Linked DNA regions of Homo sapiens. The protein of the gene in region 1 purifies or fractionates together with the protein of each later gene. This does not show direct contact. Each region holds a gene or a part of one and is shown in the gene's direction. Other genes may lie near its edges.

Evidence for each region. Proteins that work in one complex are often made in the same cells at the same time.
Region 2: the proteins of IVNS1ABP (region 1) and LRPPRC purify together in Homo sapiens (affinity purification with mass spectrometry, with the first as the bait; one large-scale study listed by BioGRID). This does not show direct contact.
Region 3: the proteins of IVNS1ABP (region 1) and ATXN2 purify together in Homo sapiens (affinity purification with western blotting, with the first as the bait; one study listed by BioGRID). This does not show direct contact.
Region 4: the proteins of IVNS1ABP (region 1) and ELAVL1 purify together in Homo sapiens (affinity purification with mass spectrometry, with the first as the bait; one large-scale study listed by BioGRID). This does not show direct contact.

What each region holds. Positions count from the first base shown.
Region 1 is NC_000001.11:185,300,244-185,303,743, reverse strand, and holds part of IVNS1ABP (influenza virus NS1A-binding protein), read left to right. Parts: intron 1-2,180; coding exon 2,181-2,310; intron 2,311-2,547; coding exon 2,548-2,772; intron 2,773-3,185; coding exon 3,186-3,307; intron 3,308-3,400; coding exon 3,401-3,500. UniProt on the Homo sapiens protein: Involved in many cell functions, including pre-mRNA splicing, the aryl hydrocarbon receptor (AHR) pathway, F-actin organization and protein ubiquitination.
Region 2 is NC_000002.12:43,947,490-43,950,989, reverse strand, and holds part of LRPPRC (leucine-rich PPR motif-containing protein, mitochondrial precursor), read left to right. Parts: intron 1-389; coding exon 390-417; intron 418-1,330; coding exon 1,331-1,388; intron 1,389-2,471; coding exon 2,472-2,578; intron 2,579-2,790; coding exon 2,791-2,868; intron 2,869-3,214; coding exon 3,215-3,259; intron 3,260-3,500. UniProt on the Homo sapiens protein: May play a role in RNA metabolism in both nuclei and mitochondria. In the nucleus binds to HNRPA1-associated poly(A) mRNAs and is part of nmRNP complexes at late stages of mRNA maturation which are possibly associated with nuclear mRNA export.
Region 3 is NC_000012.12:111,512,316-111,515,815, reverse strand, and holds part of ATXN2 (ataxin-2), read left to right. Parts: intron 1-2,276; coding exon 2,277-2,459; intron 2,460-3,500. UniProt on the Homo sapiens protein: Involved in EGFR trafficking, acting as negative regulator of endocytic EGFR internalization at the plasma membrane.
Region 4 is NC_000019.10:7,964,142-7,967,641, reverse strand, and holds part of ELAVL1 (ELAV-like protein 1), read left to right. Parts: coding exon 1-77; intron 78-3,500. UniProt on the Homo sapiens protein: RNA-binding protein that binds to the 3'-UTR region of mRNAs and increases their stability.

The sequences.
Region 1 (3,500 bases):
GCCCAGTTTATAGACTATTGCCAGCAGTAGTTCAGGTTTTAAAAAAATGATGAGGGATTAATCTAGGGGCATGAAGGAGAAAGGATAGATTTTTTATTTATGTCTATATATAAATAGACATTTATATTTACAAAGGTTGACTTAGCAGGCCTTAGTGATTGCTTAGCAAGATTAGGGAAAAGAAAGAATTTGAGAATAAGTGGGATTCTGACATGTGTGACTCATTAGAATGTGATGCCATGAATAGAGATCATGAAGAGGATGCGAGGGACACATGTTAGACTTCAGGAATAGAAAAAGGAGGTTGAGAAGAAGCCATTAGAAAAGTCAGAGGACAATAAGAATCTAATCATGTTGTAAAAGCTACCTAAGGTAGGAGAAGAAAGTTTGAAGGAGGACTAAACACTGTCAAGTTCTCTGGGAGGTCATGTAAAATAAGGTTTAGGGATATATTCTTTACATATAAAGGATTTAATCAGCATTTCTATATTAGGCTTGTTATTAGGCATTGCTTTTGGGCCTTTCTCTTTCACAGTCATTTTCTCTTAATTATAGTTTGTACATTAGAACAGTTTTTTTACTTCAGTACAGCCTCAATGTAAGCATCATCCATTTGTGATATTTGGATCCCTTCTTCCCATAGGTTGGGATGAGGTTTTATGTACCTTGTAATTCATAATAATAGATAAGGTTAGATAAGTCTAACCTTATTTTTTATTCTTAATATTCATAGTATAAAAGTGATATGAAAGATGCATTCACAACTTTAGTAACAGTGGAAAACAGCCTGTCATAGTGTAAATCTGTTTTATAGTATGACATAACTTGTCATAGTATAAAAAGGATGGGGTTTATCTTCATAATTCCTAATCTTTATTTTAGTTGTATTGCCTTGGGCAATGCATATCTTCTTGAGTTTCAATATTTTTATCTATAAAATGGGTAGATAATATCACCCTCACTGGACTAAAAGAGATGATGTAAATAAAGTACCTAGTAATACCTAGGTACATAGTAAACATCTAAGTGGAATTTAATCATAACCATTGATAATGATACATTCCCTGCCTTTTCTCAAAATAGCCTACGTATGTTGTAACCACACTCAGGCCTAACTTTTGATATAGCTTTTTCTTAATAGCTTCAAGTAGCTAGCAAAATCTTTTTCTCAATTACTTGTTATATGGCTTTTTGCTTCCACTAGCAACAGAAATTTCCATTAGAAATTTTACCTATCCATGTGTTCTGGCCATCTGGACCAGCACAAGTGGGATGAGCAAACTAGGCCAGGTGCTGAAGTTGCTACCTGTTCATTTGGCAGTTCCTCTCAGAGTAGTCTTTACTCTTCCAATTCCATATGATCATATCCTTTGGAAGTGGCAAAGGCTAAAGTAATTGGAAGGAAGCCATCAAGGAAAACTCATACATGAGAACACATGTGTAAAGTAGTTCTCTTACAATCATTTGGAAATTGGCAGCTTTGTTCATTTCTCCCTCTTTAGTATTCCTGTATATTCTACTTTTGTGAATATTTGGTTGTTTTTAGTAATGTTTCATTTCTGATTACTATTTTCTTGTGTTTTGATGTAATTTTGTCTAGAAAACCACTCTATAATACCTATAAGGTAATCCTAAAGAAATATTCTTTAAGTGTTTCTTGTAATTGCCACTTTTTTCCTGTCAAGTACTTTCAGAGAAACTGGATGAATCTATATCTGCTTACGTTTTGCTGGCATTGTATGAAGGATACCTGTACATATGATTTAGTTAGGTTTGACAATTTCATGAAAATAGTGGGTTAAATGTATTCTCTGTTAATTCACACTATTTTAAATTTATAGCATTCTTTTAAAAGATTCTATACTTAATATAAAAATAATTATAGATTGGTTTTTTCTTCTGCTGAGGTCTTGATTTGCAACATGTTTTTCAAATTGTTAAAACTGAGCTTTTTCTTACCTAGGCTAATTGTGTAGGCGTAGTTGTCTCATCATTGAGTGGAGATGGAAGTATGCCAGTAATTTGTGTCATTTGGAAAGTGTTGGCTTGAGTTAAAGTTAGTGTCCTATAAATGTCATATATAGGTGAAGGATACTCAGTGTTGTGGAATAGCTCAGGAACAAAGGTACATCAGATGTGGTCTTTGGCTAGGTTTCTGTAGCTACCTTTTGATTTTGCAGAAAAAGCCACCACGTGAGAATGGCCATAAGCAGATAAGTAGCAGTTCAACTGGATGTCTCTCTTCTCCAAATGCTACAGTACAAAGCCCTAAGCATGAGTGGAAAATCGTTGCTTCAGAAAAGACTTCAAGTAAGTATATGACACTTGCCAGATTGTTTTCAGCTTACCTATTTTTAAGAAGGAGTGTTGCCAATTTAATACCTCTTAAATTGACTACTCGAGGAAAAAACTCAGAAGCAATTAAATTTGGAAAACGAGAGCAGATTGTTCCAGTCTGGGATGTGGAGACTGGAGTCCAATTCAGGATCATATACACAAACCAAAAGTAATAATTACATCTTAAACATGGAACTCTTGTGCTTACAGATAACACTTACTTGTGCCTGGCTGTGCTGGATGGTATATTCTGTGTCATTTTTCTTCATGGGAGAAACAGCCCACAGAGCTCACCAACAAGTACTCCAAAACTAAGTAAGAGTTTAAGCTTTGAGATGCAACAAGATGAGCTAATCGAAAAGCCCATGTCTCCTATGCAGTACGCACGATCTGGTCTGGGAACAGCAGAGATGAATGGCAAACTCATAGCTGCAGGTAAGAACAGAAGCATTCAACTGGCTAAGCATGTAGATGGGCATTTTTGTGACATGCAAACTTTCAAAGAGAGGGTTTAATATGCCATCTTTCACGGCAATCCAATAAGATAGGGAAATAACAATACTATTGAATATGGCTAACCTTCAGTTCAATGTCTGTATCTAATTTTTAAAAAAATTATGTCATGGCTAAATTTTTCTAATATTCAAGCCAAGACTAAGCAGTTTATTTGTACTGATAATGCGATTTTTCAGCTATTACAAGCACTTAGTTAAAAGATCAACTAAGGCATCCTTAAAAAGTTTTAATACTTTTTCTCATTGTGCAGATTTCTTAAACTTACAGGACTGGAAACCGTGGTCCAGTTTAATATTTTAAACATAAATCTTTATGGTTTTATTTTTTACCAGGTGGCTATAACAGAGAGGAATGTCTTCGAACAGTCGAATGCTATAATCCACATACAGATCACTGGTCCTTTCTTGCTCCCATGAGAACACCAAGAGCCCGATTTCAAATGGCTGTACTCATGGTAAGCGCATTATGTTGCAGGAGCAACCCCTATTTAGCTTTTTCCTCGTAACTTCAGGATGTTAGAAATTCTCATCTCTCACTTTTGGCATAGGGCCAGCTCTATGTGGTAGGTGGATCAAATGGCCACTCAGATGACCTGAGTTGTGGAGAGATGTATGATTCAAACATAGATGACTGGATTCCTGTTCCAG
Region 2 (3,500 bases), on another chromosome or scaffold:
CAGGCAATTCTCCTGCCTCAGCCTCCCGAGTAGCCTGGATTACAGGCATACACCAACACTCCCGGCTAATTTTTCTACTTCTAGTGGAGACGGGATTTCACCATGTTGGCCAGGCTGGTCTCAAACTCCTGACCTCAGGTGATCCACCTGCCTTGGCCTCCCAAAGTGCTGGGATTGCAGATGTGAGCCACCAGGCCTGGCCTATTTTGAATATTTGAGGTGGGTGAGTGTCAGCCTTTCTAAATTACCTTTGTCCTGAAAATTCATCCTGATACAGCAAACATTTATTTACTTATTAATTTTAATACTTTGATCTGTACATATTACAAGTATGCATATACTTGAAAATAAACCTGGGTTTATTTTCGATCCTTTGCTGCCCTCTGCAGGTCTATGAATATAAATCTTTGGAGCGAGGTAAGTCCCTCTAATATTGCAAATCATAAGGTGCTTTTAACGTTACAAGCCAATACCATAGGTTATGTAATAATTTTTATCATGAAACCTATATTTGGTTTTCTACTAAAATTTTGCTGGCAGAGTTAATGTTGAAAAATAATAGTTATGTGTGTCTTTTAGTGTTTGTGAATCCAATTGATAAGAATCCAATGGGAGGAGGGAGAGGATCAGGAAGAATAGCTAATGGATGCTGGGCTTAATACCTGGGTGATGGGATGATCTGTGCAGCCGACCACCATGGCACACGTTTACCGATGTAACAAACCTGCACATCCTGCACATGTACCCCTGAACTTAAAATAAAAGTTGGAAATTAAAAAAAAAAGAATCCATGAGAATAGACACTTTAATCTTTAGACCCCTTTTGTTTTAGTCTCATTAAGATGAATGGAAGTTGTTATTAAATATCTAAAAAATGTAAGTTATTTAGCAGTTCAGGATATTTTACTTTATATTTCAGTAAAACTTAATATAAAATGAGGAAACCAGTTCAGTGTCAACAAGACCAAAAGCAATATAATGAGGAATAATATTGGTCAATAATTCCTATAAGCTCTTTTCTATTTATAACAGTTCATTCAGAGTGATGTTTATATATCAATTTATAAATCAGTTTAGAGTCTTTCTGTGTGACATTTCACAAAACATTGCAGTTTTCCTTCAACATGGATTTGTTTTTGTTTTTAAAAGACAAACCTATTATTTAAAAACAAAACAATCTCCTTGGCGGGTGGGGGTGGTTTTGAATTACTGTGAAATAGAATAGTACCTTACTGGGGAGAGGTTTTATTATTTCAAGAATTCAATTTCAGATTGTGTTTGTTCTTGTTTGCTTCTCTTGCTGCAATGCACGAATTTTCTGTCTTACCAGATAACAGAATTGTTGTACAAGGATGGACGTTATTGCCAGGAGCCTCGAGGACCGACGGGTAGCGTTTCAATTTCGATGATTGTAACTTATCCACAAATCCATTTTTCTGTGTAATGATGGGTTAGGAGGATTACAGCAGTAAATACTTTATTTTTTAAAGTGGAATTTGAAAACATTTGGTTATAAATCTTTATATTGATTACAACATTTTGAGATCTAAAGTGTTTGATTTTGTTACAATTATTTTTTCTAAAGACAGGGTTGGGAGGCTTTTTCTTTTCAGATATTGGGGAAATGTTTCTTCTAACATCTATGGAAATAGGCTTAAAAATCAGTGATTCTTAGTATTTATGTGCTTTTAATGTTTTGCAGGTGTAGTTAATTTTAAACATAAAATGTAGCGAAGGTTCTTGTGGATTTCCGCTTAAATGTAATTTATTGCCCCAAATACATTGTTTTGACATTTAATGATTTTCATTTTTCATATAATGAAGCTAGACTATATAGTTTTCTGTAAGATGGTACCCCTCTTGAAAGTTTACATTTCTATCCTAGGTATTACTGTAACATGGCCCTATACATTTTATGCTTGAATGCAAAGGAAAATTACTGTTGTTACAAAACATCTTTGTTAATCTTGGTTTTTCATTGGCTAATAGGCAGCTCTCCACAGGATTACTGTATCTGCTTATTAAAATTGTTTAACTTTCTTTACTCAACATTTAACAATCCTTTCTAATTTTATGTGCTTCCCTAAATATTGTCCACAAAAAAAAAACAGTATAGAAATGTGTACAAGACATTTATTTATTCTTATTACGTGTGATTTGGACAGGAAAGGGGTAAGGCCTTGGGCAGGACCACTTCTGTCACAGAGTGGTGGAAAAAAAATAGATTGAAGTAAGATTCAGTACTGAAAAGCTGTCACTCGGTCTGAAAATAATTAATATTCCTTTCACTCACCAGTTAGATATGTGCTCCCAAACCACATAATCTCTATGCCTCAGTGATCATTGTTGCCATTTCAGAGCCTCTCATCAGGGTGACATCTCACACCAAAATGATTTCTTATAAATTAATCTTGATAACATGACAGTCTCGGTAATTTTAGTGGAATGCTTTCTCTTGTTTTTTTCCACAGAAGCTGTTGGCTATTTTCTTTATAACTTGATTGACAGCATGAGTGACTCAGAGGTACAGGCCAAGGAGGAGCATTTGAGACAATACTTCCATCAGCTGGAGAAGATGGTACCATTTCGTTTTTTGCTATATAATGCCTGTCCTGCCTGACATGTATCTATTAGATTTGAAATTGCTGCTTTTAAGTACAACCAGACCACTTCTCAATGACATGCAAGAGTTGGAGACTTAAATTATGTCTGAGATAATTTCTGTTAGACAAATTTCAGTTTGGTTGTCTAAAACTCAGGTTTTTTCCCCCCTCCCTTCCCTTCTCACAGAATGTAAAAATTCCTGAAAATATCTACAGAGGCATTCGTAATCTCCTGGAAAGCTACCATGTTCCTGAATTGATTAAGGTGTGTGTGAAATAGCAATCAACTGGATAAAATGCTTAACTTACATATAACAGCATGTTAAAATTTTATTTAAATATGATGCTTTTGGTCAGAAAAAAAATTTGTTTCAATGACAGCCATTAAAACGAAGCTTTTCATTGATTGTTCATAAATACTATTTATATATTCATAAATATATTTATAACGTTAATTACATTGATTAATAAAGTATGAAGAGAATGTCTAAAATTTTGGAAAGATGAAAAGTAGTAATATGAGGTGAGACTTACAAATTTGCTTTTGATGTTTGCTGATGTATTTTTACGTGTGTTTTCTAATTCTGGGCTAATTTAAATTTCAATTTTAGGATGCTCACTTGTTGGTTGAGAGTAAGAATTTAGACTTTCAAAAAGTAAGTAGGATTTTGACTAGATTCTACATGCTATAATACCCATATTTAATGAGTATTCTGGATTGTGTACTTATAAAACCAGTGATTCCTCACATTTTTATCATCTTGTATACCTCTAAGAAGTTGGTAAAACCTGTTCCCCACCTCAGAAAAATCAACATATCTAAGAAATTTGCATATAATCTCAGAAGGTTTGTAAATCCCTGGAGTCCATCCATGGATTCCCCAATTAATATCCCTG
Region 3 (3,500 bases), on another chromosome or scaffold:
AGTCTTGAACTTAGGTTCATTTTACAGCTCTTTGGCCAAGGTCCTAGTGAACCTTCCTATTGGCCATAAGCAGGGATGGTGTTTTCTGGGTCTTTTTTGAGAGCGACAGCCCATGTAGCTGACTTTGCGTGTCTGCCCTTAGATTAAAGTAGTTGATTTTTAGAATGCCAGAAGAATTCTAAATTTAACTGAGTAATTTTTTTAAAGTTAGCTTTGCAATCTTACATAGTGAAAGGCTGCTTTAATCTGGAAGAAGTCCTTGATCTGAGATAAAATTGATAAAAACGACATATGAATTTGAATATTTAGCTATTTCTTTCCTCGTCAAAAATAAGAATAAAATCTTGTAATTCTTATTCAGTATTTGGCGCTAAATCCATCATTGCCACATATCAAATACAGGGATATGTTGTAGAAAGGTAACATTCTAATTTAAATGCCACCCATATATTAAAAACCTGTTTTCTGAATCATAATGTCCTTTTGATACTAGTTCTGAATATTTGTGTTAAAATTTTAATCTGATTTGTTCATTAAAATTAGTTAATATTGCTTATGTTGGGACTAATAAAGTTTTCCGCACAAAATGTGTTTCTCCTGCTTCCCTGGAGAAAACTGTATTGGCTACTTTTAAATAAATTGTTACCATCTAAGCAGGCAGGTCATATGACTTTGACTGAAGCATCTAACCTTGAAGAGCAAGTTCCACTGATTTTCAAGGTGACTTCTTTGCTCAAAAGGGCCTTAATAGTGGTCACTAAATGCAAAATTCTGTTGATATTTTTCTTGTAGTCCATCATTTGAGTAAGCGATGTTTATTTAATGAGAATATATTAAATAAAACATGATCATTAATGACTGTGAACATCTTTATTACATTAAGATTTAAGGACTGCTCATGTATTAACTTCACACAGAAATATACTTTCTGTGTCATTCAGAGATGTTGAATATTTCCATTTGAAAATTATAGTGTATAACATTAGCATTCTTCTAAAGATCATGTTCGTGTTTAAATTCCTGTTGGAAGCCAGGCATGGTGGCTAACGCCTGTAATCTCAGCACTTTGGGAGGCTGAGGCAGGTGGATCACTTGAGGTCAGGAGTTTGAGACCAGCCTGGCCAACATGGTGAAACCTCGTCTCTACTAAAAATACCCAGCTACTTGGGAGGCTGAGGCAGGAGAATCACTTGAACCTGGGAGGCAGAGGTTGCAGTGAGTTGAGATCGTACCACTGCACTCCAGCCTGGGCGACAGAGACAGACTCTGTCTTATAAAAATAAAAATAAAATAATAATTCTATTGGCAACATATATTAATTTGAAGTTCTAAAGAGTTTGGCAGCCGGGTGAGAGAGTGAGGAGATTTGGCTTTGACATTAGGGAAGTTTTCGCTTGGTGTTAACACCAGTAGGCTTCTCTGATGAGGGCCATTCTGTCCACTCTTTTACCTGATAGATTGGTCTAATGCACAGTAGACTGATTTAGAAAGAGTAGTCACTAGTGGCATGGCAGAATCAATAATGTAGAATTTTGACAATTCATATAGTGCTGATTTCTCCCCCAAATGTCAGTTATTTTGGTCATCTATTAATAGACTAATACAAGTCATCCCTTTAATAGAATTTTCAGCTCACAGCCTGCTAAGCCTAAGAAACTGCTTACAGGTTACTGCTTACTGTTTTAAGCCGAGTTTTAAAATTGATGATCATGATAGAAGAGATAAATAAACTAAAATTTTAGAGAAATTTAAGAAGGGTATGTACATATGTTTTAGTGGTATCGGGGTGTATAGGGATTAATAGTCTTCTGTTTAAATTTTTTTTTTCTAATTTTAGAAGTAATGTAGAAAATTCGGGTCAGGGAAAGGTAAAATATATGGAAAGTTAAAAATATTTTATCATGTAGTCATAATTTCTAGTAACATATTTCTTTACAAATAAGACATAGTTGAAACAGATTGCTACAGTTCTTTTAAGAGTTGACATCTTATTGTTGATTTCTTACCACCAACTTCATCCCTCCCTTTCTTTAAAAATAAAGGGAAATAATAAAATTTATTTATAAAACTTTGTGGCATTCCACAAAATAATTCTGAAAGAATTAGTATGGCCAAAAAAATATGTATGGTGTTTTTTTTTTTTCTATTTTTAACCAAGGAAAAACTGTAGAGTGAGTGAGTGTGTGTGCATGTGTGTGTGAATGGGTGTATTTAGCAGAAAAGTAGTACTGATGAATATCATGGAATTTATGTGATGTTCACTGTTTCTTCCTTAGGGCCTCCAAGGATGTCCCCAAAGGCCCAGCGACATCCTCGAAATCACAGAGTTTCTGCTGGGAGGGGTTCCATATCCAGTGGCCTAGAATTTGTATCCCACAACCCACCCAGTGAAGCAGCTACTCCTCCAGTAGCAAGGACCAGTCCCTCGGGGGGAACGTGGTCATCAGTGGTCAGTGGGGGTAGGTAACACTTGGGCATAATGATGGTACTCATTTTGTCATTACACTAGATATAAAGAGGGCTGAGCTACAACTCTGTTTGAGGAAGTGTAAGTATGTATATGTTAAAAATAGTAGAATCACCAGGAATTGGGAAACCCATATTTTTATTCTGGGCTCTACCACTTATTCATCATATATTAAAGCAAGTCAGACACTCATTCTGAAGTTGAGATTTCGCAGTGAGTAAAGTGTTAATAATTCTTGCCTAGTCTACATTATGGGATTGTGATGAGATTCCTATAAGGTTCATAAATACAGATATATTGTAAAACTATAAAGTTTTGTAAAGTACCTCTCTAATATGAGGCAAACACAGTATGTAACACTATTTGGAGGGACCGTATTTCCTTATCTTTTTAGCAGCTTTGTTTATCAGTACATTCTATAAACATTTATTTTTGGCTTACATTGTAGTGTGTTTCTATAGCATCTGTATATGGCACTAATTCCCAACTATATTTCCATAATAAGGAATATCAAATACAAATAAAGGGTCCAAGTTTTATTTGTGATTAGCATAAGGAATATGCTGACAGCAGCTATAAAAGTATAAAAATTAGGCTGGGTGTGGTGGCTCACGCCTGTAATCCCAGCACTTTGGGAGGCTGAGGTGGGCGGATCACAAGGTCAGGAGATCGAGACCATCCTGGCTAACACGGTGAAACCCCGTCCCTACTAAAAGTACAAAAAAAATTAGCCGGGCATGGTGGCGGGTGCCTGTAGTCCCAGCTACTTGGGAGGCTGAGGCAGGAGAATGGCATGAACTCGGGAAGCGGAGCTTGCAGTTAGCTGAGATCACGCCATTGCACTCCAGCATGGGCAACAGAGCAAGACTCTGTCTCAAAAAAAAAAAAAAAAAAAAAGTTTAAAAACTAGACGTTGACATGATTTTACAATAAGGCTGACTGCTTTTGCTACTTTGCCAATCAGTCCTTAGTGCTTTGTTCCCATAACTGTGGTAAGCAAGAGCTTACAAAGAATACTTAAAACAAACAAACA
Region 4 (3,500 bases), on another chromosome or scaffold:
GCACTCCTCTCGCAGCTGTACCACTCGCCAGCGCGACGGTTCGGAGGCCCCGTTCACCACCAGGCGCAGAGATTCAGGTGGGTCGGGAGGGTGCGCGCTCCTGAAAGCCATACTTAGCCCCGCTGGCAGGCGACGGCACAGCCACAGAATAGAAACCACGGGGATGATAGACTGATCCCGTCAGAGAGCGCGTTTCAGAATCATTCTGCAGCTCCACACCACAACCTCCATCAGAAAGGTGTCTGTAGGAAAGCCGTTTACTTCCGATTGGGCGTTGTCTTTCATGGGAATCAAAACAGTGACTCCAGGCTGGACACAGTGACTTATCCCTGTAATCCTAGCACCTTGGGTGGCTGAGAGAGGAAGATCGATTGAGCCCAGGAGTTCAAGACCAACCTGGGCAATATTGCGAGACCCCATCTCTACAAAAAATACAAAGCTGGCCAGGCATGGCGGTGCGCTCCTGTAGTTGCAGCAACTCAGGAAGCTGAGGTGGGAGGATTGCTTGAGCCCAGGAGGTTGAGGCTGCAGTGAGTTGTGATCATACCACTGCACTCCAGCCTGGGCCACAGGGCCAGAACCTGTCTTTTTTTGTTTTTATTAAAAAAAAAAAAAAGACAGCACCAGTCCCCACCAGTTGCTGTGAGCGTGAGCACTTAGAGCTTCAGCACGCAGTTCCTAGTAACAGCAGAACGGAGCCGCGAGCTTTAAAGATGGTTTCATGCCCAGTGTGGGGGAGCACACACCTGTAATCTCAGCTCTCAGGAGGCCGAGTTAGGAGGATTACTTGAAGCCCCGAGTTTGAGCAGCCTGGGCAACAAAGTGAGACCCCTGTTCCTACAAAAAGTAATGAAAAAAACTGGGCATGGTGATGCTGGCCTTTAGTCCCAGCTACTCAGGAGGCCATGGTGGGAGGATCGCTTGAACCCAGGAGGTGGAGGCTGCAGTGAACTATGATTGCACCACTGCACTGCAGCCTGGGTGATAGAGTGAGACCCTTTCTCTAAAAAATAAATGAATAATGAACGTCTCATATCTGTGGGAGAAAAGATGCTGCCTTAGGTATACTCGGGTGAGAGTAGATCTTCCAGCATTCTTAGACATTTGATCAGCAGCCCTAAGGCAAACCTTTTTCAAACACCTGCCTCGTGGAGTCATTTGTATTGGTGAATGTTGTATGTATGCATTCTGTTTATAAGCCCTGTCCTAGAGGGGAGGAGTTTTCCCGGATTCCTTAGTCTTTCCATCCTGAAAATGGTTCTGGCTGCCAGGATGAAGTGGGATAGAGGCGATGAGAGTCAGGGCCTTGGACTCCAGGATGTGGTGTGCTGTCGCCTCAGAAACAGCAGAGGTCTCAGTGTCAGGGCTGTTTTGTTTTTGTCAAAACCTCAAGGAGTGGCATCGAGGGCTTATCTCAGGTATGACAAGGATAGATTTCCCTTTTTTTTTTAATTTTTAATGTTTTTATTTTTTGTTGAGATGGGGTCTCACTGTGTTGCCCAGGCTGGTCTTAAACTCCTAGCCTCAAGTGATCCTCCTACCTCAGCCTCCCAACGTACTGGGATTATAGGCGTGAGCCCGGCCCCATCGTTGTTTTAACAGTGAAGCTGGGTGGGCGCTGCCCAGTGCCACACATGCTGCTGTGAGAGGTGTTATTCTCATGGCTGAGTTACCCAGCATTCTCAGCCTGGCTCAAATTCCAAAGCTGGCCTGCCTTCCTTGAGGTTTCTGGCTTGAAGACAAGGCTGGGGAAGCTTCTCTGGACGGAATGGAGCTGAATTTTAAAATCCAGCTCTAGAAATCCCATCATACAGTCGGTCCTGCTCTTGATGGGGCGGGCTATATGGGCGGTGGGGTTGGGTGAACTGCTCCTTAGCCTGGAAGGAAAACAGGGAAGGTTGGAGGAGACATGGGACTCTGGTCCCAGTAATGAGGACAAGAAAAGAAAGGGGAAACCGGAGAAGTGGACATTTCTGGTCGAGCAGGAAAAGTGAGTGGCAGGGCAACCACTAAGACAAAGTGATGGAAGGAAGTGGGGAGGGCGGGAGAGTCTGGAGGGAAAGATTCGCTCAGGAGGCTGAGAGAAGAGGAGGAAGAAAGACCCAGACTGCAGTGAGTTTGCAGTCAGTCCCTATCACGTCCAGAAAAGCCCAGAGATAAGGGATGGAAAAGAATTGGGTTGGAGGAAGAGAGGAGAAGATTTATGACTGTCAAGACCAGAGAAATCAGCAGGAGAAAAACTACCAACAAGAGTAATTCCTAAGAAGGCCGGGCGCATTGACTCACGCCTGTAATCCCAACGCTTTGGGAGGCCAAAGCAGGAGGATCACTTGAGCCCAGGAATTTGAGACCAGCCTGGACAACATAGACCCTTTCTTCTTAGTCTTTCCATCCTGAAAATGGTTTTACAAAAAATGTAAAAATTAGCCAGCATGGTGGCACACACCTGTGGTCCAGCTGCTCAGGAGGCAGGAGGATCACTTGAGCCTAAGAGTTTGAGACCATACTGGACAACATAGTGAGACCCTCTCTCAAAAATAAAGAAAATCACCGTTGGGCTAGTGAGCTGCCCCATGGCAGCTGGTGTCCTCTCGTGTCTGTCGAGAGGGTGAATCTGTTTAACAGCGCTTGAAGGCACTCGTTTACCCCGGCTGGGGCCTGCAGGGCTGCGCTTGGCTGATAGGGCCATAGCCTGAAGCCCAGTTTTATTTTGGAGCAGGTAATGCTTCTCTGCATGCATCACGCAGCTTCACAGATGCCGGCTTCACAAATGTATGCTACTCAGATATTCCCAAACTGACCCTCAGACCTTTACTTTTTTAATGTGAGAAAGTTCCAGAGGGAAACATAGCTTTAGGAACTGTTTTGTCATATACCTTAATCCTTATTACAGCATCTGTACATTTTCAGAAGGCTTTATTTTATTTTAGTTTAGTTTAGTTTTTGTTTTCTGAGGTTTTTGTTTTTTTCCTAGAGATGGGGTCTCTCTGTGTTGCCCAGGCTGGTCTCAAACTCCTGGCCTCAAGTGATCCTCCCACCTTGGCCTCTCAAAGTCCTGGGATTCCGTGCTTGAGCCACCATGCCTGGCCCAGAAAGGCTTATTTTTTATGTAAATAAAAGTATCACTGTGGAAAGAGCCCCACGTGTGTGGTCAAGTTTGGTGAGCCTGCCGTTGCTGGTGTCCCAGGGCCCTTCCCTGTCCCTTGAGTTCTCAGTCCTCAGTGGTTTGGCCCCTGACCCTCAGGGGATGTTGAGCTCTAGCCACAGAGGGTTGGTTGCCTGGTGCTTGGGAAGGAATTCTTGTGCCCTACAAGTGGCCCTGGCAAAGGCGTGCTCTAACCAGAGACCACTGGGCTGTCAACGCTTGGGGGCGGGTCATGATAAGGGGAAGGTGCAAAATTTGGAAAAAGGAGTTCAGCCCCTGCACGTACCCCACAGTACGAGGAGAGTTTCCTCCAGGGAGAACTGAGGCTGTCAGAGGCCTGCAGAGCATTTCTACC